2 separate regions of the Homo sapiens genome follow, and region 2 is linked to region 1. Evidence: fine-mapped expression QTL. A gene starts in region 1. The other region holds a variant in brackets. All regions are shown on one strand. Distances are between the middles of the regions.

The links. PIP is the estimated chance that this variant, and not a neighbour inherited with it, causes the effect. A credible set is the group of variants that fine-mapping cannot tell apart.
Region 2: its variant is the best candidate, but not a certain one, in a credible set for the expression of ATP5MC2 in prefrontal cortex (CommonMind, PIP 0.53).

Annotation. Positions count from the first base shown.
Region 1 is chr12:53,675,084-53,677,993 of GRCh38, reverse strand. ATP5MC2 (ATP synthase membrane subunit c locus 2) reads left to right here and starts at 1,911. Exons shown (of 5, transcript NM_005176.7): 1 at 1,911-1,941. RefSeq lists enhancers at 1,420-1,649, 1,760-2,209.
Region 2 is chr12:53,632,213-53,635,122 of GRCh38, reverse strand. It overlaps the pseudogene RPL31P51. Among named protein-coding and RNA genes, the nearest start is that of ATF7-NPFF, 7.3 kb to the right of the region's middle. The variant T/AT (reference allele first, on the strand shown) is at 1,055.

The sequences.
Region 1 (2,910 bases):
AAATTGTCGCAACAGCTGCAACAGCCGTTTGGGGGTGGTGGCTCCTAAGAACTGTGGACTTTCTCTGCCACTGAGGATGTGAAGCTGACAGCTTAAAAGAATTCCGTTTTGGTGGGAATGGAGATGTCTGGAGACCTCAGGGGATAAACTTGTGTCTTTGCTAGCCTGTCTTTCTCCTAACAGCATCTCCACAGTGCCTGGCACCACTTGGTACTTGATAAATACCTGTTGATTGATTCCCAAAGATCCCAGTTCCATTTCCCACGTACCTGCCCGCTCGGGGCGCAATCAACAACTAAAACTGGAGATTTGGGGATTTCAGAGGAACCTGTGAGAATCCTGATGGAGCTGGAAATGCGAATTTAGGAAAGACAGGCAGTCTACCACCCTCCTCTTCTCGCCCGCTTCTCCTATTTCTCCCCACTCCTTCCCCTCCCTTTCAGGAGCTCAGGGCCATAAAAATGCAGATGGAGGATCGGTGTGAAATAACGGGCCCATATAAATCCCTCTGCCGCCCGCCTGCAAGATGGATTGGCCGCATTGAAATTCCTCCGCGAGGATAATTAAACTCGGGGCCTCATCCGGGCAAAATTACATTCCTGTAATGGCGTCGCTCGGGGTCCCGGGAAATTGCTCCGTGGGCTTTCAGCGGCGGTTTTTATCGCCGGCCGGGGTGTGCCTGTCTGCGGCTCGCCTCTCCTCCGGGACCGTAAAGCTGCTGCCGTGATTTATCCTCCCCTTCTCCCAAATCCGATTAAATGGAGGAGCTCGGGGCCGGGGCGCCGCGGGGCCCGGGAGCCGGGAGGGGGCGGCGGGAAGGACGGGGCCAAGGAGGGGAGGACAAACGGCCCCTCAGAGAGTGGCGGATTTGCCTTTATTTACAGCCGCGGCTTTCTTTTTATTTTTTATTTTTTATGGGGTTTGGTGAGCTTTTCCCGTCTTTCTCGTGCTGCGTTCAAGCACGATGCAGGGACGGCAGGGGTTTGGAACTGGATAGGCCTTGTCGCCCTGTTCCAAAGGGCAGGGCAGGTCCTGTCTGGGAGACAAGGAGGCCTAGGAAAGATGAGGGCCAGGAAGCCTCCCCCACCTCCTTCCATCAGGGGAAGGGCGAGCGAAAGGGGAGAGAAAACCCACGTTCAGGAGAGCATGGGGGCGGGAGGGGAGGGCGCTGCTTATCCCAACTCGCGTAGTTGAAACCTGAGCAGAGGCTCGGGCAAGCCTGGAGTGACCTCGCAACCTTACAGCGGGTCGCAGGTGCCCGTTATTCCTAGACTGTCCCAGGAGCCAGGAAAGAGGGATTCGGATCATATTTAACCCTATCTTCTGGCTCGCTGATGCTGCTTCTCTCATGGTTTATCACCGGAATGGAAAGGAGGAAACGGGGAGTGGGGGAAAGGGCGAAGCCACCAGAAGCAGCTGCGGCATTTTGCTGACTATTCGCCCATGGAGCCGGTTTGCCATCCAGTGATGCCAGAGTCCCGGCGCGACAGAAAGCAGGACTCCCAAGATCTTCCTCCTGCTGCATTTTAGGCACTGAACCCCAATCCCGACCGTATGTTAACACTGAATTCTGAGTAGGAGTTTTGTTTTGGCAGTGTGACGACTGCGCATGCTCGGAAAGGGGACGCAAGTCCGAGATCCCAAACGCGGTACAGACCAAACCGCAGTCCACGTTACGGATCGGCTTACTCCGCGGAGTTGGCCTCATTTCTGCAGTCGGCGCTCCCTGTAGTTTCTCCTCTCGAACGCCAGGTGGAGCAACCGGCCGGATACCGCCACAGCCCTGGCAGGCGGCGCTGTGATGCCTGAGCTGATCCTGTATGTTGCAATCACTCTATCCGTGGCTGAGCGACTCGTTGGCCCGGGTCACGCATGCGCTGAGCCTTCCTTTCGCTCTTCCCGCTGCTCCGCCCCTCTCTGTCTTCTCTGCAGTGGGAGCAGGTAAGGCCTTGGGACCTAGAGCCCTCTGTGCGCTGCGCACGCGCGCGGGACACCTCACCTTGCGCGGATGCTTTGAGGCGCTTACCTTGCGTGCTCCCACCCTGGTCCTCTCGCCCTTTCTTGCTTCCGCTATCCCTTAGCCTTAGAGTTGGCTCTTCCGCGTGCCGGTGACCTCCAACCGCGCGGGCCTGGCGCCATCTTGGATGTCTCGCAGGGGGAGGATACCTTGGAGCTGGCCAAAGTTAGATCCTGGAGTGCTGCTTTTCACCTGTTCCACCCAGTCCCTGCAAACACTCTTTTCTCGCCCTCTGGCCCTTTCAGATTGTGACAACCCCCAGGCTCTCCCCTCCTATCTCTGCTTTCTCTTCTCATCCTGACTTGTGCCTTCTTTATTCTGAAATCTCCAGACTTTAGGCCCCAGAACCTCAGGTGCTCCGAGCAATGGAGATAGTGGATCGTCTAAAGTCACCAATCCCTCTAGTCAGCACCCCTCAATTTAAAAAGTAAACCTTGAACATGGTAGAAGTGGGAAAAAAAGCCAAAACATCGCCTCCCGTTAGGTTGTGGCTTGGGATAGCTAAGGCAGAAGAGAGAGGCTGGTTGCTTTGGAATCACTAGTTATTTACCAGTACCTTTCTCGCATCCCGGCACGCTGGTGAAGTTGTAAAAGTCACAAATGGTGGGCTAGAGATGAGGGTTTCTGTTGAGGCAGCAGGCCCAGAAAGGTGGGGTAAGGCCAAGCTAGTGGGGCCAGCATGAGACCCTGCCTGCCAGCTTTCCTGTGAAGGATTAATTAACCTCCCCAGATTCTGCTGTTACAAGGAAAAGAAGGTTTAAGGAAAGGAATAGTTAAGTTACTACCCCTGTGACTCATCTACACTGAGGAAAAAGCCCGTGATGATTTTGGAGTCCTGATTCTGGATAGTGCCTTTGCCCAAGTTGTAGGCTAACAATTGCAGAGTTGCCATG
Region 2 (2,910 bases), 43 kb after region 1:
TGAGGTTGCTGGATCTTTTGAGGCCAGGAGTTCGAGACCAGCCTAGCCAACATGGCTAAGCCCCTTCTCTACTAAAACTATAAGAATTAGCCAGGTGTGGTGGCGCATGCCTGTAATCCCAGCTACTTGGGAGGTTAAGGCAAGAGAATTGCTTGAACCTGAGAGGCAGAGGTTGCAGTGAGCTGAGATTGTGCCACTGCACTCCAGCCTGGGCAACAGAGTGAGACTCCACCTCAGCGCCTGTAATCCCAGCTACTGGGGTGGCTGAGGCACGAGAATCACTTGAACCTGAGAGGCAGATGTTGCAGTGAGCTGAGATTGCACCACTGTACTCCAGCCTGAGCAACAGAGTGAGACTCCGTCTAAAAAAATAAATAAAAATAAAGTGTACATGAAAAAATTTTTCAGTATAAAATATATTTTAGGCCAAAAAATAACTCATAAATTTTAAAGTATTGTAATAATGCAAAGTATGTTTTGTAATCATAATGGAATAAAATTAGAAATTAATCACAGAAGAAAATGAGAAATTCACAAATATGTGGAAAATAAAAAACATATTCCTAAATAAACAATGAATCAAAGAAGAAATTACAGGGATGTTAGACAACACTTTGAAATAAATAAAAATAAAAACAAAACCTATTAAAATTTTATGCAATGCAGCTAAACCAGTGCTTAGAGGGAATTTTATAGCTGTAAATGAATAAATTTTAAAAAGAAAAAAGACCTCAAATCAATAGCCTAAACCAAAGAAAAAAAGCATCTAGGAGCTGTGGCTTATGTCTATTATCACAACATTTTGGGAGGCTAAGGCGGGAAGATCACTCGAGGCCAGGAATTTGAAACCCACCTGGTCAACATAGTAAGACCCATCTCTACAAAAAAAAAAAAAAAAAAAAAAAAAAATAGCCAGGCATGGTGACACTTGCCTGTAGTCCTAGCTACTTGGAAGGCTGAGATGGGAAGATCACTTGAGGCCAGGAATTTGAGGCCAACCTGGTCAACATAAGACCCATCTCTACCCAAAAAACAAACCAAAAAAAAAAAAAAA[T/AT]TAGCCAGGCATGGTGACAATTTCCTGTAGTCCCAGTTACTTAGAAGGCTGAGATGGGAGGATCACTTGAGCCCAGGAGCTTGAGGCTGCAGTGAGCTATGATCGGGGTACTGCACTCCAGCATGGGACTAGACTGGAAATAAATGAAATAAGGAATGAAAAAATAATAGATAAAATCAATGAAACCAAAAGTTGATTCTTTGAAAAGATGAACAAAATTGACAAAATTTTAGCTAGATGGACCAAGATAAAAAGAGAGAAGACTCAGCTGGGCCTGCTGGCTCATGCCTGTAATCCCAACAGTTTGGGAGGCTGAGGCAGGAGGATCATTTGAAGCCAGGACTTTTTGGGGGGATTTTTTGGCTTTTCTTTGAGACAGTGTCTCACTCTGTTGCCCAGGCTGGAGTGCAGTGACATGCCATTCACTGCAACCTCGAACTGCTGGGCTTAAGCGATCCTCCCAACTCAGCCTCCCTAGTAGCTGGGACTATAGGTGTGAACCACCACACCTGGCTAATTTTTGTATTTTTTGTAGACAGGGATTTCGCCCTGTTGCTCAGGCTGGTCTTGGACTCCTGGACTCAAGCAATCCACCTGCCTCAGCCTTCCAAAGTGCTAGGATTACAGGTGTGAGCTACCATTCCTGGTCAAAGCCAGAAGTTTGAGACCAGGCTGGGCAACAAAAGTGAGATGTGTCTACACAAAACAAAATTCAAAAAATTAGCTGAGCTGGCATGGTGGCATGTACCTGTAGTCCTAGTTACTCAGTAGGCTGAGGCAGAAGGATCGCTTGAGCCCAGGAGCTCAAGGCTGCAGTGAGCTATGCACATACTTCACTTCAGCCTGGGCAATAGAGCAAGACCCTGTCTCAAATAAATAAATAAATAAAGCTTTCCAACTTGGGCCCAGCAGAATGGCCCGCAAAGAAGGGTGGCGAGAAGAAAAAGGGCTGTTCTGTCATCAACAAGGTGGTGACCGAGAATACACCGTCAACCTTCACAGGTGCATCCACGGAGTGGGCTTCAAGAAGCGTTCCCCTTGGGCATGCAAAGAGATCTGGAAATTTGCCATGAAGGAGATGGGAACTCCAGATGTGCGCATTGATACTAGACTCAACAAAGCTGTCTGGGCCAAAGGAATAAGGAATGTCCAAGACCTTATCCGTATGCGGTTGTCCAGAAAACATAATGAGGATGAAGATTCACCAAATAAGCTCTATACTTTGGTTACCAATGTACCCGTTACCGCTTTCAAAAATCTACAGGCAATGTGGATGAGAACTAACTGCTGATAGTCAGATACATCAAATAAAGTTATAAAATTGCTTTCAAAAATAAAAATAAAATGAGAGAGAGAGAGAAGACTTAAATTGCTAAAATCAGGAATAAAACAAAGAATGTTATCATCAGGCTCACAGAAATAAAAATGATTATAAGGGAATATTATGAAAATTGCATGCCAATAATTAGATAATCTAGATGAAATATAAGAATTCCTAGAACGACACAAGCTACTGAAACTGACTCAAGAGGAAATTTTAAAAAATTAAATAAACCCATAACAAGAAAAGAGACTGAATTACTCATTAAAAATAAAAAAGTTCCACAAAGAAAATCCCAGGACCATGTTGTTTCACTGGTGAATTCAGTCAAATGTTTAAAGAACACTTAACACCCTTCCTTCCTTCCTTCCTTTCTTCCTTTCCCTCCCTCCCCGCTTCCCTTCCTCCCTTCCTCCCTCCCTCCCTCTCTCTCTCTTCCTTCCTTCCTTCTTTCTTTCTTTAGACAGGGTCTTGCCCTTCCTTCCTTCCTTCCTTCCTTCCTTCCTTCCTTCCTTCCTTCCTTCCTTCCCTCCCT